Regions from separate parts of the Homo sapiens genome. Here all the other regions are linked to region 1. Evidence: fine-mapped QTL for protein levels in blood plasma. A gene starts in region 1. Each other region holds a variant in brackets. All regions are shown on one strand. Distances are between the middles of the regions.

Region 1 (8,185 bases):
TCCAGAACAATTATATAGCCCTCAAAGTCAACATATGATTCATGAAATGGGGTATGTACCCGGAACAGGACTAGAAAAAAAAATTTGCAAGGTTTAAAAAGTTCCCGCCAAAGATTAGGATATCATTTTTGATGGCAGCCATTGTTAAGCCTCCAGAACCTATACCTTTAGAATGGTTAACAGATAAGCCAATTTGGATAGAACAATGGCCGCTAAGTAAAGAGAAACTGGAGGCTTTGGAGAAATTAGTTACTGAACAATTAGAAAATGGGCACATAGCTCCAGCATTTTCTCCTTGGAATTCTCCAGTTTTCGTAATTAAGAAAAAATCAGGTAAATGGAGAATGTTAACTGACTTCAGAGCTATCAATTCAGTTATATAACCTATGGGAGCATTACAGCCAGGATTGCCTTCTCCTGCTATAATTCCAAAAAATTGGGCTTTAATAGTCATAGATTTAAAAGATTGTTTCTTTACTATCCCTTTAGCTGAGCAAGACTGTGAACAGTTTGCATTTACAATTCCTGCAGTAAACAACATGCAGCCTGTTTTCATTGTTTTACAGATGGGTCTAGTAATGGTAAATCTTCTTATTCTGGATCAAAAGGTAAAGTTTTTCAGATGCCCTATACTTCAGTTCAAAAAGCAGAGCTTGTAGCTATAATTGAGGTATTGACTGCTTTTGATATGCCTATTAATGTGATTTCTGATTCTGTTCCTATAATTGGGGCAGAATCAGGTTTACAAAAAAATTGGGGCAGAATCAGGTTTACAAAAAAAATTGGGGCAGAATAGGTTTACAAAAACCTATTTGTAAACAGGATTGGACCCAGTTAGAAAAAATGAACGTACTTGTTTAGGAAGATTGCATTGCAGAACAGGCAGAGGTGCTGCACAACGATTCCTATGGAATCATTATTAATTCGTCCCCTAAGGGGACGTTTAGCTTGAATTGCACCTCTCAGTCTGCATGCCACGGCCACACTATGTTCAGATGATCTGAACAAAACGGTCAGATGGTAGAAATGATAAGAACTACGGCAAAAGTTCCCATTACCTGGAACCATGGTGGTATAGCAGCACCTCAGCCTCAAATGATATAGCCCGCTCTAGGAGCTTAACATAAGGAATTAAAATTAAAAGAACAAATGTTTAAAGCATCGCAGGCACACCTGACCTTAATGCCAGGAACTGGAGTGCTTGAAGGAGTTACAGACAAATTAGCAGCTAGTAACCCATTACAATGGATAAAAACACTTGGAAGCTCTGTGATTTCAATGACGTTTGTGCTTTTAATCTGTGTTGTTTGTCTTTGTATAGTCTGCAGATGTGGAACCTGACTCCTGCGAGAAGTAGCTCACCATGACAAAGCTGCCTTTGCTTTTATCGATTTGCAAATCAGAGAAGGGGGACATGTTGGGAGCAGGCCCCCCAAAATCTGGCCATATACTGGCCTCAGAACTGGCCATAAACAAAATCTCTTTTGCACTGTAACATGTTCATAATGGCCCTAACGCCCAAGCTGGAAGGTTGCAGGTTTACAGGAATGAGGGCAAGGAACACCTGGCCCACCCAGGGCGGAAAACCACTTAAAGGCATTCTTAAGCCACCAACAATAGCTTGAGCGGTCTGTGCCTTAAGGACATGCTCCTGCTGCAGTTAACTAGCCCATCCTATTCCTTTAATTCAGCCCACCCTTCGTTTCCCATAAGGGATGCTTTTAGTTAATCGAATATCTATAGAAACAATGCTAATGACTGGTTTGCTGTTAATAAATATGTGGGTAAATCCCTGTTCGGGGCTCTCAGCTCTGAAAGCTGTGAGACCCCTGATTTCCCACTTCACACCTCTATATTTCTGTGTGTGTGTCTTTAATTCCTCTAGCGCCACTGGGTTAGGGTCTCCCCAACGGAGCTGGCATTTTCCTGCCAACTTTCTGTCATTCCCTCATAGATCGGCTCAGGATGTTTGTCATGCAGCAGTCATTTCTCAAAATGTGGACAATTGTTATTTTCATTATAAAGAACATGAAATTTTACTAGACCTTCTGAAAGTGTGCAGGATAAGTTAAAAAAATAATTAAGACAAGATGGTAAATCTGGTGATTTCTTTTTTTTTTTTTTTTTTTTTTTTTGAGACGGAGTCTCGCTCTGTCGCCCAGGTCGGACTGCGGACTGCAGTGGCGCAATCTCTGGTGATTTCTTCAGTATCCAGATGTATATATCAGATTTTTAACAAGAAAGATAAAATAGAAAAAAATGAAAGGTTAGGAAAGCATTAATTGGAATGTACTAAGGACGAGGAAAGAATTAGCAATGATTTTTGAGGTTGGAAAACTAGAAAAATTGTACAACATTGGCAGAAAGAGAGAAAGTCCAAAGGTAGGATGGAGGGTGGAGATAGAGTAATTTTTATGGCAAAGATGACATTGGATTAACTCATTTAGGCCTTCCTTTAAAATTTAGCTATAATTATGATTTATCAACACATATCTCCTCTTTCCTTGGAACTTTGGGAGAAACTTCCTTATGTATCATTGAATTTTTATCCTTTCCCAGAAAACAGACATGTCTAAGTTACCACATTGAAAATGTGGCAATGAATTATTTAATGGTTGCAGCATTGTTACTTCAAAATGGAAGGCATGTATACATTTCAATTCAAAGTAATAAAATTTCACACTGCATCTAGATTCAAATTATCTATAATCTATCACTCTATAGAGGGACATGTATTTAAATGTTAGTAGTAAACAGAATTGAGTAAATTTTTTCATCTCTCAAAATGTATATTAAATTTCAACTTGATATGATCAATGGAACACCAGGAATTCATGAAGTTTCAAAGTGGTCCAAGCACAAATAAACAATTTTCTTTTAGTTTTAGGAAGACAAATAGTTGAGAAGAACTTCTTATACCTGCATAGTAACCCAGACACTAAACTCTAAAGTTGCCCAACTCTTTAGAGCAAATCAATCATATATTACCACGAAAAATGTGAGTTTGGATGCAAGGAGTAAAATGGACTAAATAAAAACGTATTTGAAGCTCCTCCTCCTCTTTAATACCTATGTAACTTCTTAAAAAAAAACAACCCAACCTTATAATAGTATTGGCCAGTCATTTGAATTTTTGAAGAAAAAATTGATACAGTTATGCATGAAAACACAGCATCTATCCCTCACTCTTTCAACTTCTGAAAATAGCTAGAGAGTGGCAAGTCCAACCATCATCCTTTCCCCAAAACTCCATAATTAATGGTAATATTTTCTAGAACTCCTTTGAATTTCACTAGAGGTTATATATTGTAGCTTTTTTCCCACTCTAACATTTATAGACAATACTGACAAATGTTTGAAATAATAGATTGGAATTAACCCTCATATTAATTTTAGCTTCTACCAAAGTGTGCATAGAGCAAAGAATCAAAGGACAACATGTTAACTAATAAAGCAAATAATTGGTACCTATGACTTAGCAAGTTACCTTTATTAGCACTGGGTGTTGGATCTTGAAACTGATAGTTTAAAAAGTGTGATTCTTTTGAAATGGGACCAAAGGAGCCTAGGATAAGCCCAGCACCATAGGGCTCCCAATTGAGGGGTGTGGACTGGATGGCTGAAGAGGTAATATCAATACAGTGTGCCATGTGCTGTCAGTACCTAGATGATGGATAACACGATACCAGAAATGGTGGCCACAGTCAGGAGACTCGGCCTTCCCCCAGGTGAAACAAAGAAAAGGATAACAGCTGCTCTCTTACATTCAGAAGTGTGTGAGATACCAACATCCACGAGAATATTCCAGTTCTCCTTCTGAAGCAGAATACTACCTATTCTACCACCCACATCCTGACAAGGCCTTTGGAAATCAACTCAAAAATTTTTAGCATTATTTTTTGGGGGAAGGGTGATTAAAAAAAATCTCAGGGATAATCCGATTCAAAACTCTTGATTTTTAAATTAGGAAAATGCATCTTTTGATACATTTCAAGGAGTTCAAAAGTCCCTCCAAGACCATCCATGGACCCAACACCAATGACTCTGGGTTTTAAATCCTTTTAGTTTGGATTTCCTTAATTGCATTCATAAGCCCATATTAAAATTAAAATATAAAAAATTAAAATCTTTGCCCCATATTAAAATCACCCTGAAAACTTAAAAAACAAACAAACAACAACAACAACAAACCTCAATGCCCAGACCAGATCCTGTCCTGTTCCAATTAAATCAGAGTCTCTAGAGGTGGGACCCAAGAATCAATATATATGTTTTGAACTCTCCAGGTGATTCCACAGGGCAGCAAAGTTTGAGAAGCAACACACAGGTCTCCTTTTTCGTCACGCAGTTGATCTAAGTGCTCTGTGGTCTATTCACCATCGCTCTCTGATTTAATCATCGTGTCCGAAACAATGGAAAGGCGTATGTAGCTGAAATAATTTAGTTGGAATTATCTCGGAAAAAATAAGTAAAGTTAGATCAGGAGTGAGATGCTTTCTCAGCGCTTTCCCTGGGTCAACAGGCGCGTGCAATTTCCTCAGCGAACGCCAAGGGGCACCCTCTCCCTCCCCGCTCTACCTGGAACGCCTTCGCCTTTCCAACCGCACAAAGAGCCCGGCCTCCTCCCGGGTGACATCACAAAGGGCCGGTCCCCCGCCCCTTCGGCGCCACCACGTGTGTCCCTGCGCCCGGTGGCCACCGACTCAGTCCCTCGCCGACCAGTCTGGGCAGCGGAGGAGGGTGGTTGGCAGTGGCTGGAAGCTTCGCTATGGGAAGTCGTTCCTTTGCTCTCTCGCGCCCAGTCCTCCTCCCTGGTTCTCCTCAGCCGCTGTCGGAGGAGAGCACCCGGAGACGCGGGCTGCAGTCGCGGCGGCTTCTCCCCGCCTGGGCGGCCGCGCCGCTGGGCAGGTGCTGAGCGCCCCTAGAGCCTCCCTTGCCGCCTCCCTCCTCTGCCCGGCCGCAGCAGTGCACATGGGGTGTTGGAGGTAGATGGGCTCCCGGCCCGGGAGGCGGCGGTGGATGCGGCGCTGGGCAGAAGCAGCCGCCGATTCCAGCTGCCCCGCGCGCCCCGGGCGCCCCTGCGAGTCCCCGGTTCAGCCATGGGGACCTCTCCGAGCAGCAGCACCGCCCTCGCCTCCTGCAGCCGCATCGCCCGCCGAGCCACAGCCACGATGATCGCGGGCTCCCTTCTCCTGGTGAGCGCTTGCGTGGACCGGGGGTGGCGGCGGCGCCGGAGCAGAAGGAACCGCTCTCCGGGAGCCGGGCGGGTCACCGGGCCGGGGCTTAGGGAGGCGCGGGGCCCGGCCGACTGGGTTACGGGCACTGAGGGGTTTCCAAGGGAAGGCAACACACCAGAGGGCCTCGACTAGGTTATTTGGGGGAATCTCAGGGCTCAGCCGGGGCTGGGGAATGAAGACGAATTGTTTTCCTTGCAGTCTGGCTTTGCTGGAGGAGACGCTAGAGGTAGCCGCCCAGCTTCTGCGCATTTGAGGGCTTTTCCCCCTACTCGGCCTACCTCGCGCTCCCCACGCCCGCAGCCACAGCCCCCCACCCATCGGCCACTGCCCCTCTGCGTGGTGTGGGGCCTCGCCGCGGTGTGGGGCTCCCACGGCCGGCCGAGGCCGGCGCTTTGTTGCAGCTGCAATGTCATGTCGGGATGCTACCGCAGTGGAAGACAGTGGTACCGGTGCGCGCCGGACACCGGAGACCTCCGGGTGCTGTCGCGCGGTGCATTCCCGAGCAGGGCGCAAGCCGCCCCCTCCTCAATCCCTTTACCCTCTCTCTTCCCTCTTGGCTCGGGTGGGGTCTCAGGTTCTGTATGCCGAAATATCACCCTTAGACCCACTCTCCGGCGCCTCCAAAGCGCCGGCTTCCAGCCAGCCAGCGCGCCGGCACTGGAATGGGGGGAGGGGGAAGGAGATGTGTGTGAAGGAAGATGAATTTTCTACAGTCTTTCCGATCCCTCGTTTACCTGTGGCTAGGCAGGTGACCCTGCAGGGTGGTGCAGTCTCCCTCATCGTCTAAGCTGCATCCACATCTCGGGTCAATCATCTTGACCAAAAACTTACCCTCAACTTCCCCCAAATTCCCTCCCTTTATTTCCAAATATTGGGGTGAAGGGGCAAGTTAGGTGGAAGAAAATTTGAGATCAAACCCTTGAGCTTCCCTTGCCTATCTTTTATCACTGCAGGAGGGATGGAAATTCTTAGCTAAAAACCGAACAAAAAAACCCCCAAGAAACAAGAGCTTGTTTTCACGACAGGGCTGTGTAAGGGAAAAGCAGGCTTGCTGTCTCCTTCCCCAAAAGGGCTTAACGCCTGGCCAGCCAAGAACTGCTTAGATCTCAGGACATTGCAGTTGCTATGGCCTGGGAATTCATCCTACAGACACTCTGGTTCCTTGTGTGTGTGTTTTAAGAGGAAGAGAGAGACTAAATAAAAGTTTGTTACTGTTAGCATTTATAATGAGGCAAGTCCCAGTCTCCCTTCAGAAACTCTTTTCTGCCCACTTATTAATGGCATGGCCAAGGTTTATATCTTTGAAACAAGTGAAACAAGTGTGGTGGATGGTAAGCAGTAGTCGGGGAGTCTCTTGGGACAATGAACCTGGATTGACAGTCTTGGTGTGGAGAGAAACACATCTAGGTCCATGGGAACACTGATCCTAGTTCAGTGGAGTGAGAACTATCATCATTTCCTTTTTCACAGCTTTAGATCCACTACTATCCACTACTATGTTTCAGGTGCTTCTAACACATCTGATTATTATATGCCTCACAGAGTCCATTCCCAGATTAAATCTTAAGTCATTGTGCAATACTCCATTTATTTTACCTTTTAGCATGAGGTAGGTAATTAAACAAAGGTCTTGATGTAATCAAATGGTAGGTTGCCTTAACTAACTGAGAAAGGGCCCAGCTCCTTTTCTTGAATCATCAGGCTAGGCACCCTGGCTTATGCCTGTAATCCCAGCGTTTTGGGCGGCCAGGGTGGGAGGATTGCTTGAGTCCAGGAGTTCGAGATTTGCCTGGGCAACATAGTGAGACCCCATCTCTACAAGAAATTAGGTGGGTGTGGCGGTGGTGTGCGCCTGTATGCCCAGCAACTCAGGAGGCTGAGGTGGGAGGATGGCTTGAGCCCAGGATGTTGAGGCTGCAGTGAGCTGTGACCATGCCACGGCACTCCAGCTTGAGTGACAGAGTGAGACCCTGTCTCCAAAACCAAAATAAAAAATAAGTCATCAAACTCAACCTACCCTAAAAATTGTGCACTGGATTTGCAACTAAAGACCTGACAATTTAAGTTTGGCTACTTTGAAAAAGATAAAATTTATAATGGGGCTTAGGAGCAGTCTCAAGTTGATAACCAATACAGGATTCCTTATTCTTCTGCTAGCTATGCTAAAAAGACTTCAGGTAAATTCATGAAATGGCATGAGGTTCAGCCCTTCATCCTGAAGGGTGACTGGAGGGTGTGCCAGGAATCAGTAGAGACTATGTTATAATCCCCATCCAGGGTGGGGAGGAAATGCCTTTTGTCTTTCACATTCTTATTCTGCATGCCCAAGTCCACAGCACAGGCTTTGTTAATGTATAAAATGATGATCTCATGATACTGTTCCAAGAAGTATTTATCCCATTGGGATCCTTGGCCATGTGAACATAACGGACATCAGGTACTGGAGCCTGGGTACACGTGGCAGGGTACTCAGAACACTACTGGGGGAGGTGGGCAAGTTAGTGGCCTGCCCACGTATTACAGTTAGATTAAAAAGTAATAATCCCAGTAAAATGTTCTATTTATTATGTCTTTTAATGCTCTTCTTTCAAATATCTCCCTTTTTGTGTGATAATATTTATTGTCATCATTTTTGTGTTATGACTTTTTGTTTGTCATGACCGGCTAACTGCATGAAAAATAGCTTACTATAAGCTTATAAAAATACAAATATATAGGTACACAATATGATATAATATATACACATGTATATAGCAATTGTATATGTATAGAGAGAGCAATTGCTACATGCCAGGTGCTTTGTATACAGTATCTCATTTATTCATAGCATCTTTGTGAAGCAGGTGATATTGTCTCCTTTTTATAGTTGAGAAAATGGAAGCTCCCAGAACTTCATTGGTTTGTCCCAGGCCACACAGCTTGCACGTGATATTGCTGGGGCCAGAACC
Region 2 (8,185 bases), 23 kb after region 1:
CACCCTCTGCTCTGAAGCAGACAGCTTTTTGATTCACAGGTGCAATTATATGCCTTCTCCCCCAACCTATCATGTAAACATTTAATGACTTCTCATTGCATTTTGAATTAAGATCAGCACATGGAGACTCTTCAGATGTAACTGTGGCCACTCTGTTGCATCTTGAGATAGAGCCACAAGCTTTTTAGTTCCTGTGCTGAGCTTCCTTCTGCTTCACACTTTTGATCTGGTGTTCCCTCTGCCTAACCCTCTTTCACTGCTTCTTGCCTGGAGTTAATTTCTGCCTCTCCATCCTTAAGAGTGGTGACAAAATGTTTCTCTAACTTCCCTGAGCTAGGAAGCACCTGTTCAATTCCCTCTCATAGGATTCTGTATTTCTCTTTCTCAGCAGTGATTTCAATTCTAATTGAGTAATTACTGGTGTATTCTTTTTTTGTTCATCCCAGCCTAGAATGTAAACTTCATAAGGGCTGGAATAGAGTTCTCAAGATTCTATCCTCAGCCCATGGCATGCTGTCTTGCACACACCTATTAGGTCTTCAATAATTATTTGTCCAGTGAATTCATAGTGTCTAGTTTTTGCTAAATCTCATTTCTAGTGTTCAGCCTGGGCCCGACTGTGGAGGGATCATTGTTTGTTGGCTCTGCTTGCGGGAGCTGGAATTGTCTCTTGTTGTATGAGGTAATTTAAAGGTCCTTTTTTAGAGACACATTGTCTAAAGTGGGTTACCCAGTATGAAACAGTTTAAACAGGGCCGAGTTTTGCTTTAATTAGAAACTTGATCTGTTATTCCAAATGAACAAAGAGCTCTAAAATCCACTTACAGTCTGAGAAAGAGTGTTGGGGCTGTGGGGTTTGGAGGTGGGTTTTATGTATAGCTAGGAAAACCTTTTTTGGTTTTACTTTAGATTTAGAAGTGCATATTTCGGGGGAAGTATAGAAAGCTGTAGGAAGCCTACCCCAACTCCACACCCAAATCCACACATACTTGCTATTCATGACCTCCTGTGCTCATTCTGCAGAGCCACCCTTGTGAGTGTGTGTGTGGGTGTGTCTGACTGCCCATCCTCCCACACAGGTAGGGAGGCTGACTTAGATCACACAGCACATCAGAGTGATATTCATCGCCGACCACCGCTCCCTGCCCAGATCTTGGGTTCAGTTCTCTTCTTTCTTAATTGAAGTGTAACAACCTGCCACTTGGGTTACTAATACAGCTTTCAAACTTTCAGAACACTGTAGCTGTCTAAAACTGCTTTTGCATGTAGACATGCCACGAAGTACAGAGCAGAGCCACTTTTGCAACCTCTTGGGTTGGGTGTTTAGTAGGGAGATAGGGTCTAATCCTGTCGTTGATACTCTTTTGTTTCTTTTTCTTTTTTTTGAGATGGAGTCTCACTCTGTCGCCCAGGGTGGAGTAAAGTGGCGCAATCTCGGCTCACTGCAACCTCCGCCTCCCAGGCTCAAGCAATTCTCCCACCTCTGCCTCCCAAGTAGCTGGGATTACAGGCATGCTCCACCACATCTGGCTAATTTTTGTATTTTTAGTAGAGACGGGATTTCACCATGTTGACCAAGCTGGTCTTGAACTCCTGACCTCAAATGACCTGCCCACCTTGGCCTTCCAAAGTTCTGGGATTACAGGCATGAGCCACCGTGCCCGGCTGGTATTCTTGACAAATGTAACTTGGGTTCCACAGGATGGGTCCTTTTATCCAGTGCATCCGCTGTGCTCAGAAAAAGGTGTCTGAGGCTTATTTTCAAATAGAAGGAACAAGAAAATGAAAGGTAAAGTCAGAAGGGATAAGGGAAGACATTACAGAATTTATCATCAAGCAGGAGGTTTTTTCCAGGTTCTAAGATGAGGTTAAGTTTCTTAACAAAAGAATCAACAACTGTCCTTTTTTTGTTGGGGGAGGGTCTCGACAGAAAAAATGAATATACCCTCATAAGCTGAAAATTTGTTTTCTGTATTGTTATTTAACTAGATAGGCAGCTCTGGGACAGGGGAAGGGACTTCAGGGAAATACTTTTGATTCAAATAGTTAAATTTTGGGGTAGGAGAGAATTGAACCTTGAATTAAGTGTCAAGGTGCTAAAAAGACAGAAACTCTGATCACTGTGAAAAAAATTCTTGATTTATTCTCTTAGTCACTGGTATAGCAGCCAATTTAGAAGGAATTTGCCCTGCTGAGTAGCTGGTAGTTTGAGGCAGCCATTATTTCCTTGACACATAAACTTTGTGCATTTCATAAAGGATAGTGAAAACTGTTGGAACTTTTCAATATTCATTAATGCAGAAAAACTTTCTCTTAATATTCTTATTCTCCCCCAGTCTCTTCTCAGAAGGACCTCAGGATTTAGTCCCATGAATATAATTTCCTTTCCCCTAAGTGCCTGTTGATTCCCTCTTGCTGGGTCTAGCTTTGTGCTTCCTCTCCTGGGTGGCTGCAGGCCCATGCTTTCGTAGCTATGGTCTTCAAAGGCTGAGCAAACAGGGTGTGAATCTGAAAGCATCAACTCTGTTGTTTAAAGCACATTACAAAAATGCCAAGGGCCCGCCTCTGTTTTGACAAATAAATAAAAGTTTAGCTTCATGTAGGCAAAGCGTCTGAAAAAATCAGGCCATGACTGTCAGGTAATGCCAAGCAGGCAATCTGGTGCATGGAACTGGCAGCTTGAATGCATGCCTTCCTGGTTCCCAGTTGCCTTGTCCTAGCATCATGAAATGGCAGCTTAACATTGGGGTTGGGGAAAGGAAGAGAACTATTCAGCAAGTTATTTTCTTTTTCTTTTTTTTTTTTATGTTTGTTTCTACCGCTTTATTTTTATTTATTTATTTACTTAGAGACACTAAAAAGGGTATACAGATTTTATGTGTACAGCTCAACGATCTGTGACAAAGCAAACACACTCCAGTAACCAGCATCCAGATCAAGTTACGGAGCGTTGCCAACACCCTAGAACTCACCCCTCATGCCCTCCTCTAATCACTGTACCTTCTCTCCACTCTCCAAAGCAGTGTAACACAGAGATTAGCTCTGTTTTCAAACAAGCAGTTGGAATGATACAATGTGTACATTTTGTGCCTGACTTCCTTTACTCAACATTACGTTTGTAAGATTTATCCATGTTACTATGTGGAGCTGTATTAGTTCATTTTCATTGTTGTATAATGCATTATATGACCAAATGACAATTATTTATCCTTTCTGCCAACAAACGTGTGCTGTTTCCACCTTGGGAATGTTTTAAATAGTTTTGCTATAAGCGTTGTTGCATACCTTCTGGTGCACATATATACACATTTCCATTAGGCATGTGTGTATATACTAGGAGTAGGATTTCTGGGTCATAGCGTATACATTTTCAACTTCTGTAAAGAGTACCAACCAGCTTTCAAAGTGTGTGTTGCAATTTATGCCTTTATCAGAAATGTATGAGAATTCCAGTTGCTTCTCATACTCACCAAGACTTAATTTTATCAGATAGTCTTTTTAACTTTAGCCATTCTGGAGTATATAGTACTATTTCAATATGGTTTTAATATGCATTTCCTTAATTAATAATGAAGTTTTACGTTTTTGTCCTTTATTGGCTATTTGAATATTCACTTTTATAAAATGCCTGCTCAAGTTTTTCACCCATTTTTATCTTGTGTTGATTTTCTAGGAGTCCTTTACATATTCTGTCCACAACCCCTTTGTCAGTTATAAGAGTAGCATACATGACTTGAGCCACAAAATATGTGTATAAATTTGAAATGTAAATTTCAACTGATTTCTTACAGGTTTAGTTACCATTTCAGTTTTATAGTATAGAACTAAGCTAAACAAAGTATTTTACAAATCTGTGATAAATAATTCTTAAATAGAAAGAGTACATTTTTTATTAAAATACATCTTCTAAAGACAAGAACAGGGCAAGTTTTTTTTTTAATTAGCTCCCTTATCCTTAAATGAATAAAATACCCAATGTTAAAAAGTCAGCAAGTTATTTTCCTGTTGCATTTGGATTTTGACTAGTATACAATTTTTCTTTTCTTTTTTTTTTTTTTTTTTTTTTTTTTTGAGAAAGAGTTTCACTCTTGTCACCCAGGCTGGAGTGCAATGGTTTGATCTTGGCTCATTGCAACCTCCACCTCCTGGGTTCAAGCGATTATCATGCCTCAGTCTCCTGAGTAGCTGGGATTACAGGCATGCACCACCAAGCCTAGTTAATTTCTTATTTTTCGTAGAGATGGGGTTTTACCATGTCAGCCAGGCTGGTCTCGAACACCTGACCTCAGGTGATCTGCGTGCCTTAGCCTCTAAAAATGCAGGTGTGCAAAAATTACAGATGTGATGTAAGGCAAATTTTGCAAATTGCAAATTTTGCAAATGCAAAAATTACAGGTGTGAGCCAGTGCGCCCAGCCATATATAACATTTTAAATCTCAGCTACAAAGTGTTTTCACATACATATTCTCAACTGATTTTTATAATCAATTTGAGATGCATTGTCAGTTTCATTTTACAAATGGAAAAAAAGGAAGCTGAGGCAAAGGTCAGGCAGTGAAACCAAAGCATCACAGCCAGTAGATCAAGCTGTAGGGTGGGATCCAAGTCTTCGTTTCTCTCGTTCTACTGTGTTGCAGCATGCTGTCAAGAGGATGCAGTCCTGGTCGGATCTTTAACAGGAATGATGATGGTGGTGCTGGAATTGTTGGCCCTTTTTCTGCTCTGCTCCTATGTAACATCTTCTTGGTTTTTGTTCCTTTCCCTCCCCTTCTGTTTCTTTCAGCTTGGATTCCTTAGCACCACCACAGCTCAGCCAGAACAGAAGGCCTCGAATCTCATTGGCACATACCGCCATGTTGACCGTGCCACC[G/A]GCCAGGTGCTAACCTGTGACAAGTGTCCAGCAGGAACCTATGTCTCTGAGCATTGTACCAACACAAGCCTGCGCGTCTGCAGCAGTTGCCCTGTGGGGACCTTTACCAGGCATGAGAATGGCATAGAGAAATGCCATGACTGTAGTCAGCCATGCCCATGGCCAATGATTGAGAAATTACCTTGTGCTGCCTTGACTGACCGAGAATGCACTTGCCCACCTGGCATGTTCCAGTCTAACGCTACCTGTGCCCCCCATACGGTGTGTCCTGTGGGTTGGGGTGTGCGGAAGAAAGGGACAGAGACTGAGGATGTGCGGTGTAAGCAGTGTGCTCGGGGTACCTTCTCAGATGTGCCTTCTAGTGTGATGAAATGCAAAGCATACACAGACTGTCTGAGTCAGAACCTGGTGGTGATCAAGCCGGGGACCAAGGAGACAGACAACGTCTGTGGCACACTCCCGTCCTTCTCCAGCTCCACCTCACCTTCCCCTGGCACAGCCATCTTTCCACGCCCTGAGCACATGGAAACCCATGAAGTCCCTTCCTCCACTTATGTTCCCAAAGGTAACTTAACCTCATGAATTATTTATTTGAGGAAGGCTTTGAGCCCAGTGGAGGTACCAAGAGTGGGCTTATACCAAAGATGTTTTCTCCATTTCGTGTATTCCAAAGTCACCCCTTGGAGAGAGGCCTTCATATGGTGGCTAATTAAATCTGGCTTTTTTGGACTTAATAGAAACATGTAGACTCAGAATTTTTCTGTTAGGGGAGATCAGATATCTAAAAACTAGGTCACATCAAGCTATAAAATATGAACCAAGAGAAACAAGGACAGCGTGTGACCTTATGTAAGTTACTTAACCTCTTCAGGCCTCAGTTTCAAACTTGTCAAACAAATGAATAATTTAGATGTTTAAGGTTCCTTCCAGATCAAAAGTTTTCCAACATGGAGTCAGTCCCAGGTAGACATAGCCAGGAGCAGAGAAGAGGGAGAAAGGAAGAAAATACCATTACATCCGGAAGCGAGAGATGAATTTTGAATCCAGGTGGGGCAAAGAATGGGTAGGAAAGTTAGAAGCTCAGGAAATAAGCAAATTTGTATCAGATTGAAGGTAACTAGCACTCATGTCTGGAAAATAATAACTTTATTTTTTCCAAATGATTTTAACTTTACTCCTTATATCAATTATTCAAGTTTTCCATCAGAACCTCAAGCAGAATATAAAATTTATCCTTTATTTTCAAATCCTTTTTGATTTAATGTAATTTTCATGAGATGATGACCAACTTGAGTTGTTCCTCCTAGTGTCCTCTCATGCATGATTACATTTAGCCTTCATGATAAGCCTGTGAAGACAGCCATCTTACAATTGCCAGTTGAAATGAAGAAACAGCCTCCAAGAGCTCAGATGGCCACTCTAGCTTTGCTTAGGCCAAGTCCTGTCTCTTGGGACTCAAAATTCCCATCTCTCATACTTCTTAATGAAAATTACTTATGGAGGCTTCTCTGAGAGAAGTCTGCTAAGCTGCCAGCCCAAATCTTGTTTAATCTTTTGATAACAGATGCTCTTATTTGCTGACCTGTCCTACCAAGTCTTTCACCAGTCAAATTTGCATTTGAATTCTTTTTTTTATCTTAGTCATATTCTCAGTTTTACCACTGCATCATAAAATAGTCAAAAGGTGGGAGAAGGAGGATGGACAAAATAATTAAATTTGAACTGGTTCTCTGAAAACTCAAAATAAGAATTGATTAGATCTCTGCACATATATGTGCCTGCTCAATATGTGAAGTACAGGAGAAGCTGCTGTCAAGCTCAGCTGTTGGATCCTTAAGGTTGCCCTTGGTTTTGGTGTAAGAATGTGAGTTTAGTGGTTCAGTTCCATTTTTGCCTTCCACATGAAGGTGCCATTAGGGTCTTTATGAAAATGTGCAACACAATTTATTCTTAAGCCCCAAGGGTCATCTTATCTTTGATTATCTGGCCTAGCTTGGAGATGACCAGGGAAAGGAGGGAATGTATAGATCCCCAAATATGGAAAAGCTCTTCCCCCCTCCTTACTCTTTTTTCTAGGCATGAACTCAACAGAATCCAACTCTTCTGCCTCTGTTAGACCAAAGGTACTGAGTAGCATCCAGGAAGGGACAGTCCCTGACAACACAAGCTCAGCAAGGGGGAAGGAAGACGTGAACAAGACCCTCCCAAACCTTCAGGTAGTCAACCACCAGCAAGGCCCCCACCACAGACACATCCTGAAGCTGCTGCCGTCCATGGAGGCCACTGGGGGCGAGAAGTCCAGCACGCCCATCAAGGGCCCCAAGAGGGGACATCCTAGACAGAACCTACACAAGCATTTTGACATCAATGAGCATTTGCCCTGGATGATTGTGCTTTTCCTGCTGCTGGTGCTTGTGGTGATTGTGGTGTGCAGTATCCGGAAAAGCTCGAGGACTCTGAAAAAGGGGCCCCGGCAGGATCCCAGTGCCATTGTGGAAAAGGCAGGGCTGAAGAAATCCATGACTCCAACCCAGAACCGGGAGAAATGGATCTACTACTGCAATGGCCATGGTGAGCCTTCTCTCTTCTCTCCTTGCTCACAGATCTCTCTACCACTTTTTCCCTAGTCCCTGTTTTCTGAAGGAATGGGAATGCGTAGTTTGTGGAATCTCCTTTGTAGACCAAACACTACTTGATCTAGTCGTGTTATAGAAAAAGAGATTGACCGTCTCATTAGAAGTAATGCATTCAGAGAGAATAATCTCTCTTCCTCCTTTTCCCCTGGTACCTTTAAAACAGAAGAATGTTGTGGAATCAGAGACCTGATTGACTCCTAGGGACTTTGTTTGACCTTGTCATTTAACAAATGAGAAATTTGAGTTTAGAGAGGTTTGGCAACATTGATCCAAACAAGAGGCTAGTTGTTTTTGAGGACAGATGGGACGAGACTCCTGACTGTTGGAGCACTTGCTTTTGCTATACGATTAGGCTGTGAAGCAAATGAAGGGGACAAAACCCAACTTGTCATAAGTTTGCCATTTTCAGTCAGAACCTTGCTTTTAGATTCCTAACAATTTCGTCACATATATATTTTCCCCACTTAAATTTTAGGATCCCATGTCTATCAGGAGGGTAGGATGGTCTTTTGGATTGTAGACCCCAGAAGCATAATATGTCGGTCATCATCTGAGCCTCAGCATTACATCTCTTTCCTGGTAGTCAGCATGTGTTGAATACAGGCTGGAATATTTTGGCCTTTCCTCTTTTGAGGGCAAAAAATAGCTTATAGAACTTGTCCCAGAGCTAAGTTTGATC
Region 3 (8,185 bases), 650 kb after region 1:
CTCAAATCACACAACTAATCAGTGGGACAGCCAAGATGTGAATCCAGACAGCCTGCATGCAGAGCCCACAGTCTTAAACACTAAGTTATGACTGACAGTTTGTGCATACACAAGCATATCTGTATAAATGTTCCTTTGTAAAAGCGCTAACATAGAATGTCAAGTTGTACAGTGTTCTGCACTGTTTTCTTAACAGCATATCTTAAAGGCTATCCCTATCAGGTCATATAGAGCAGCCTCATTCTTTTTAATAGTTTGACAGTATTTCATTTTATGGATATGCCATAATTTATTTAACGAACATAACTTTAAGAAATTTGAACATTTACATAACATTTGCTAGAGCCTGTCAAATTGCTTTCCAGAAAACCTTTATCAATTTGCACTTCCACCAACAACCTGTGAAAATGCCTGTTTCTCCACACAATGATGAGCACATACATTATCATATTTTTTCTCTTTGCATCTCTCATACCTGTTTCTCCACACAATGATGAGCACATACATTATCATATTTTTTCTCTTTGCATCTCTCATAACCACTCTTTTCTCTGTATTTTTTACATAATTCTAATTGTTTATTCATCGACTCTGTTACTGTAAGCTGAATGACGGCAGGACTGTTTCTTTTTCATTACTATAGCCTCAGTATTAAGTATAAGACTGGCATACCATACCATAATTACCCAATAAATACCTACTGACTGAATGAATTGTTCTGATTGGGTCAAAAGGACATTAAACCTATCCACCCTAAAAGTTCTGGTATAATATTTCCTTTGCACTTTTTACTTAAACCTTTCCCTTCTGGAAGAAATTCCAAAACGCAAGGACTATAAATCTATTCCATAATTGACTCTGGGAAAGCAATTAGTATAGCTTAGTACATTACAATTTTTCAAAAACAAGATAAAGAAATGTTGCCTGAAAGGTGAAACTCTACATATTGCCCCTTTTTATAGCTGTGACTTAGATTTTTTTAACCCTAAGAAAGATTTTATAGGCATCTTTCCATGTTAGTCATATGAAACCCACCTCATGCTTTCAATAGCTGTGTTATGCCATAAATATATCATAACCTACTTAACTGCTTCCAAATCAATAGTTTAAATTAAAAAAATAATTTTCTATCATCAACACTGCTACAGTCAATATCTTTGTGTCTGTCTTAATGCATATGTAGAAGCATTTATAAATGATTATAATCACAAAGGGGTTACACGTTCAAAAATGTTAACAAGTAATTTATGCTCCAAAAAGACTATAGTAACTTATATTTCCACTAACAGCTTAAAGTTAGTTTTAATTAATTTCCCTGATTATTGGTGAGTTTGAACATTTTTATGTTTAATGAACATGTATATTTCTTTTGTGAACTGCCTATTGGTATCCTTTCCTTATTTTTCTATTGTGCTTTCTCTCTCTCTCTCTATACACACACACACACACACACACAGACACAGAGGTGAAGAACAGTTTGGTATGTGCAGGCAGTGGAATCTTTCAGCTCATTAGTGCACCACTCTTTCCAAGAGAATCAATGAATTGCTTAGTTCTCTGAAGACACAGGCCAGATATTGCAGATCTTCTAAGTCACATTCCAAAATCTCCACTTTATTTTGTGGGTGATTAGAAGCCAGTGACAAGTTTTAAGGACACCAATAATGTGTTAATATCTGTGTTTCAAATAAATCACTCTGGATACCGGGTACACATTTGAGGATGGAGGAGGAGACGAGTTAGATGGCAGTGGTCCAGCTGAGAGGTTATATAATTTTATATATATAATTATATATATATATGCAATTTTTTATTTTTATTTTATATTTTTTGAGACAGAGCCTTGCTCTGTCACCCAGGCTGGAATGCAACAGTGCAATCTCGGCTCACTGCAACCTCCACCTCCTGGGTTCAAGCGATTCTCCTGCCTCAGCCTCCTGTGTAGCTTGGATTACAGTCCCCCACCACCAAACCCAGCTAATTTTTTGTATTTTTAGTAGAGACAGCGTTTTGCCATGTTGGCCAGGCTGGTCTCGAACTCCTGACCTCAGGTAATCTGCCCACCTTGGCCTTCCAAAATGCTGGGATTACAGGCGTGAGCCACCCCGCCCAGCGTGTGTTTTCTATATTTCTATTTATTTATAGGAGCTCTATGTATATTATTTTTAGTAACCGATTTTTTCAGTTTCCGTTAAATAATATACACTTACATTCATCATCTCACCGTGTCCTATAAAAACACTTAATGGTTTGTATTACTTCTATAGCTGTGAAAACTGAAGATAAAAAAGGTGAAGCAGTTTGTCCAGGTTATACAGTAGCAGAGCAGGAATTTGAGCCCATCCCTGTCTGACTCTAAAGCCGAGAGTTCTTAATAAAAAGAGGAATAAAAAGGTACTCTATAAGAATTCTTTCAACAGTAAAATACTAAATATCTCTATATATGCAATTTATATATGTATATACATGTATGTCTGTATACATCTGCAGTAAATGCTCAATTATCTGGACTTATATTGTAATTATTATTTTAAGTCCATAACTTAAGGCAATTTGGGTACAAATGTACAATTTTACATAAACCTAATAAACATTAAGGCATTTGGGGCAACAGCATATTATTTTCCAAACAAAACTTACCAAAGGGGATAATGCTCATCTTCACTTTTGCCAAACACAACCTCTCGGAGATGTTCATATGTGACCATTCGACCTCCAGAATACACTGGGTAAAAAAGATCATTAAAAAGGTAACTTTGGCTATATGTATCTATATGCTTATGTATGTATAAAATAAGAGGACATTCCGACATGGCCTAGTCAATCTCTCTAGCTGTGTCTTTGTCTCATGGGGCCGGTGCTTCTAACACGTGGGCTTCTTGATGCTTCTCCAAATGGGGCATGCTCTTTTCAGACTCTGCCCTTCCCACACACTGTCTGATCTTTCTAGAATGAATTCTCCCTTCTCTGCTTTACTAACATCTCCTTGTCTTTCAGGACTCAACTCAAAAACATGTTTTTCAGAAACTGCTCTCTGACCTTTTTATCATATTGATTAGAAATTAACTCTTCTTGCTTATCTTTCCATCAGACCATGAGCTTCTCCAGGCAGGCTCTATGTGTTTGTTTTTACTTACCCCAGATGCCCTAGTACATACCTTGGTACGCAGCAGGCATTTTCATTAAATAAAGATACATAATTTCATTGGAGAATTTATTGTAATTTTTCAGCTAAGCATCAAACGTATGAAATGAATCTTAGCTGTAAAACAACACAATGAACAACAAACTACAAATGAAAAGAAACTCAAAATAATAATGGGATGCAAAGCAGAAAATATTTTTAAAAGGATGGAAAACAAAATAATTAAAATCAACCATGGTATTTGTATAGAGAGCTTTTCTTGATGTTTTAGAAAGTTGATGAAATATTTTAAGATACTCAAAAATATACAACTTGGAAAACCAGTAACAGTCTCTGCACACAGTTCTAGATAGTTTTTGATGATACACGCTAACTTACTCATATGGAGAATTGAATCTTTAAAAATATTAAGCCAGCAAATTTTAGAAATTAGAACTGAGCACTCTTCTGATCAAGGATCCTTTCATGCTTCAGGAAACATTATGAGGAGAAAAATGCCAAACCTATCCTACCTCCTTTGAAGCCAACTTTATATTCTCCTGTACACAAGCTATAAAATCAAGTCCTCCTCTTGTGAGTGCCACTGTGGAAGCAGAGCAGAAAAATGTTCTAACTGGCATAGTTGCAACCATCTTCCTTTAAGGGTGACTAAGGCCCACATAGCTAGTTAGGTAGCCTTGGAACTGGGGCAAAAATCACCTGTGTTGCATTTACACTACAGCCAGTGTTGGATTAGGCAGTGAACTCTGTCCTCTTTCAGAGTAGCCTGGTCTTAGATTATGAGACAGGGACTCATGAGATTTGGCACTGTAATAAATATATGTTAATTTTCAAAAAATATGAAAAATTTAAATTCTGTGTTTAAAGTTCTTAAGTGAAGAAAAATGATAATCAGCTATTCACTTTTTCTTTCTTAAACCTATACAAATTTTTATTAAGAAAATTTTCAAACACTGAAAAGTAAATAATATGTAACTCCCTCTATCTCTACCATTGAGATTTATTAACTGCTAACATTTTTGCCATATTTCCTTAATTTTCTAACTTTTTAAATTTATTTTGTATTTTTTATTTTTTTGAGACAGAGTTTCGCTCTTGTCACCCAGGTTGGAGTGCAATGGCATGATCTCGGCTCACTGCAACCTCTGCCTCCTGGGTTCAAGCGATTTTCCTGCCTTAGCCTCTTGAGTAGCTGGGATTACAGGAATGCGCCACTAGGCCCGGCTAATTTTTGTATTTTTAGTAGAGACAGGGTTTCACCATGTTGGCCAGGCTAGTCTCGAACTCCTGACCTTAGGTGATCCACCCACCTGTGCCTCCCAAAGTGCTGGATTATAGGTGTGAGCCACAGCACCCGGCCCAATTTAATATTTTTAGAGATGGGGTCTTGTTTTGTTACCCAGGCTGGAGAGCAGTGGCAGGATCAAAGCTCACTGCCACCTTGAATTCCTGGATTCAAGCTGTTTTCACACCTCAGCCTCCCAAGTAGTGGGGACTACAGTCATGTGCCACCAGGCCTGGCTAATTTTCTTACTCTTTGTAGAGACAGGGTCTTGCCATCTTGCTCAGGCTGGTCTCGAACTCCTGGGCTCAAGCAATTATCCCGCCTCGGCTTTCCAAACTGCTGGGATTATAGGCATAAGCCACTGTATCTGGCTTGCTTCATTGTTTTTTGCTTAATTAAATATTTTAAAGTGGTTTACAGATTTCATGACAGTTCATCCCTAAATACGTGAGTATGCGTTTCTAAAAATTTAGGACAGTAACTTCTTAATAATAATCAGTAGTTAATTTTTTTCTTCTTAAGAGACTATATGTGTTCTGGCTGGGCACGGCGGCTCACGCCTGTAATCCTAGCACTTTGGGAGGCCAAGTCAGGTGGATCACCTGAGGTCAGGAGTTTGGGACCAACCTGATCAATATGGTGAAACCCCGTCTCTACTAAAAATACAAAAATTTCACAAGGTCAAGAGTTTGAGACTAGTCTGATCAACATGGTGAAACCCCATCTCTACTAAAAATACAAAAATTAGCCAGGTTTGGTAGCATGTGCCTGTAATCCTAGCTACTCAGGAGGCTGAGGCAGGAGAATCGCTTGAACTCGGGAGACAAAGGTTGCAGTGAGCCAGGGTCACACCACTGTGCTCCAGCCTGGGCAACAGAGCGAGACTCTCTAAAAAAAAAAAAAAAAAAATTAGCTGGGTGTGGTGGCGTGCACCTGTAGTCCCAGCTACTCAGGAGGCTGAGTCAGGAGAATCGCTTGAACCTGGGAGGCAGAGGTTGCAGTGAGCTGAGATGGCGCCACTGCACTACAGCCTGGGCGACAGAGTGTGACTCCATCTCAAAAAAAAAACCTAAATAATAATAAAAAAAGACTATGTGCTGTATGTGTTCAGTTATTGTATCAGTAAGATAAAAAAACTAACTTGTTTTTGGACAAACAGAAAAGCACAGGAGACAAACACAGAACTCATAACAAACTTACCAGCTAGAATCAAGATAAATACCTACGTGTCTGTAAATGGCGGGTGTCACTCCTTGCCAAAGCTTTAGAAAGCCTTCCTCTTCAATGATCCCTAGAGCTGTGCGCACCATTCCCCTATAGGGGGCAGATTCTCTTGCACC[G/A]TCTCCCAACCGAGCAAGAGCTGCTTCTCCTTGCATTTGGAGTCGAGTTTTTGTGAGATCCAGGGGAAAGGTTGCTAACAAAAACACAAATGCAGGGAAAAACCCACAACATTCAGAGAAACAAACAAAAATCTAAAATCATAGGAGTAATATTTTCCCAAGACTGGTTGTTCTCAAATTTTAGAATATATCAGAATCAGCTAGGGAGATTTTAAAAATTAGAAATTTCCTAGCCCCGTGCCCATGGATTCTAATTCAGTAGGTTGAAGAGGGTTTAGAAACTTGATTCTCACACAGTCCCAAATTTAAGAATCACTACGCAAGAGCATCCTGGATCACTAGCAAAAAAAAAAAAAAAAAAAAAAAAAAAAAAAAAAAAAACAAACATTAACAATAAAAATTAAAATGACAAGCCTTGGGTTCTTTCTATTCAGAAATTTAACTTTAATATCTGTTAGTCATTAATTTTTGCTTTTCAATGGGAAATAATTTAAAGTACCATATTGTGTGCTATCCTCTTGACTGCAGCCATGATTATTTGAGATCTAATGTAACATTAGAATACTGCACTATATATTCTTATGTACTATAACAAATGCTAGATGAAGCTGAACTCTATAATTTCGTGGGTGATGTTCACATGCAGATGAATGACTGACATAATGTTTGAGATACAGAAGATGTAATGGAGTTTATAATGTTGTCTTTTATATGCAAGGGTCATAAGCTCAATATCCTTTCAATTAAAGCATATATGGAATTATTTTTCCAGCACTAAATTATATGCATCGCCTACTCATGGCCTCCTTACAAGTACTAACTGTATTTTGGAAAAATTTTTTGGTTTTAAGTTTTAAATTAGATACAGACCTTTTACCTTAATACAGTTAAGCTAAACGGCCTACATAAGGAAGATAGAGCTCATAACCTTATACAGAAAACGTCCTGAATAATTAAAATAATAACATTCAGACAAGTTCATGAACATTACTTACATTATATAAGACTTTTCAATGACCACCACCTGACACAAAACCTTAGTATACCTTTTCCAAGAGAAAACAATGTGGGGAAGGGAAGTGAATATTAAATCTTACCACTGGTTTTTGGAAAAGTTAGTATCTTGCTGACAGTTTCCCTAGAACAGAAGTAGCTTGCATAGACTTCAAGCAATATTTTATTGACATATGAAACCTGAAAAATCTTAATAGATTTCTCCATATTACACAGATTATGTCTTTCAAAATAAGTTTTGTTTTCTCGCTGGTTTGTTAAATGATGCTTCAGGTTCCTGAAGTGGTTTGTACTTAAAACCATCCCACATTTTGATTCCCATCCATTCTCCACACACAATTCTCTCCATGAATTTTTAACGAGGAATAGTCCTGTATAAAAGCCATTGAGTCAGAGGGGGACACATCAATTAAAAATAAAACCTGGAAATATCATTCAGCAATCTGCTTTTAGATCTTTTTAAGCTGATGAATTTTATTTCAGTAAAAACAATGAAAAGTAAAAATTCTCCATCATTTTCGAAAGGAGAGACATTAAAAAATAGAGGGGCTAAAAGGCAAAAATGGAAGAGCACGAAACAACTGATCATGGCTGGCTATGCTAGAATTAAAAAATAAACTCTTAAAATAGGACCAACTAACATTTACAAATGATAACGCATCAGAACTGTTCTTTTTATTTTTTTGTAACAGGCAAGAAAATGTAAGGGTAATCTTAAAATACACAGTTAAGGCTTCACAGGAAACACATGAGTATACTACTCACAAAATCCTTGGAATAAACGCTACTTGCTCATTCAAGGGCATCATCATTCCACTCTAGATGGCCTCTTAAAGTTTTTTCTTACTCATGTAGGCAGATGTAACTGCTCTTCTATGCTTTTATGACACCTAATAATATCTTCATTATAACAAGTAGCACATTATAATTGTCTTTCTCTGTCTCCCCAGCAGCCTGTAAGAAGGTCAGAACTGGGTCTTTTCAAATATATATCCACAGTCCCTGGTATTGTAGGAATTATAAAAATGTCGCAACTAATGGGTGTCCTGCCTTGGGTTTAGCAATCATATATTATTGACTTCTCAGAATCCTGCAAGGTAAACAGTATAGATGAATTACACTCAAAGAGGTCAAGTAGTCGATGCTCTGTGAGTGGCAGGTTAATAACGGAAGTCCCACAAGGTAGGTCCACAACTTGGACCCACAAGATAATGACAGTGTGGCTGTGTAAGACTATAAACCACAGAGATGATCTCAGTAAGGATGGAAAACAGATTACGTTTTTAAAAAGGTCATCCTCATGAAAAGGAAAATGATTCCTACAGAGGAATGACAGCTCGCGAAGCTTCTTAAAGTACAACATTCAAGCACCACAGCACATGCCTAAGGGAAGCATTAGAA

Alleles and levels. Alleles are on the strand shown, and positions count from the first base shown. The strength of an association depends on the size of the effect and on how common the allele is.
For the plasma level of the protein whose gene starts at base 4,706 in region 1, G is the high allele of the variant in region 2 and A is the other (strong association).
For the plasma level of the protein whose gene starts at base 4,706 in region 1, allele A in region 3 goes with a lower level than allele G (moderate association).

Evidence for each region. PIP is the posterior inclusion probability: the model's chance that the variant is causal. Protein levels are from antibody-based Olink assays in UK Biobank. Linkage for the fine-mapping came from a reference panel and not from the study's own genotypes, which makes the PIPs less certain.
Region 2: its variant is fine-mapped to the plasma level of the TNFRSF21 protein (UK Biobank, PIP above 0.99). The variant lies in the coding sequence of TNFRSF21. If it changes the protein, the assay may bind it differently, which can mimic a change of level.
Region 3: its variant is fine-mapped to the plasma level of the TNFRSF21 protein (UK Biobank, PIP above 0.99).

What each region holds. Positions count from the first base shown.
Region 1 is chr6:47,306,426-47,314,610 of GRCh38, reverse strand. TNFRSF21 (TNF receptor superfamily member 21) reads left to right here and starts at 4,706. Exons shown (of 6, transcript NM_014452.5): 1 at 4,706-5,195. The coding sequence starts at 5,100. RefSeq lists enhancers at 4,444-4,738, 4,690-4,869, 5,033-5,755 and a silencer at 5,010-5,239.
Region 2 is chr6:47,283,194-47,291,378 of GRCh38, reverse strand. It overlaps TNFRSF21 (TNF receptor superfamily member 21), which reads left to right. Exons shown (of 6, transcript NM_014452.5): 2 at 4,784-5,435; 3 at 6,947-7,441. Among named protein-coding and RNA genes, the nearest start is that of TNFRSF21, 23 kb to the left of the region's middle. RefSeq lists an enhancer at 4,945-6,144. The variant G/A (reference allele first, on the strand shown) is at 4,871.
Region 3 is chr6:46,653,502-46,661,686 of GRCh38, reverse strand. SLC25A27 (solute carrier family 25 member 27) reads right to left here. Exons shown (of 9, transcript NM_004277.5): 2 at 5,653-5,844; 3 at 2,641-2,725. Among named protein-coding and RNA genes, the nearest start is that of SLC25A27, 4.6 kb to the right of the region's middle. The variant G/A (reference allele first, on the strand shown) is at 5,771.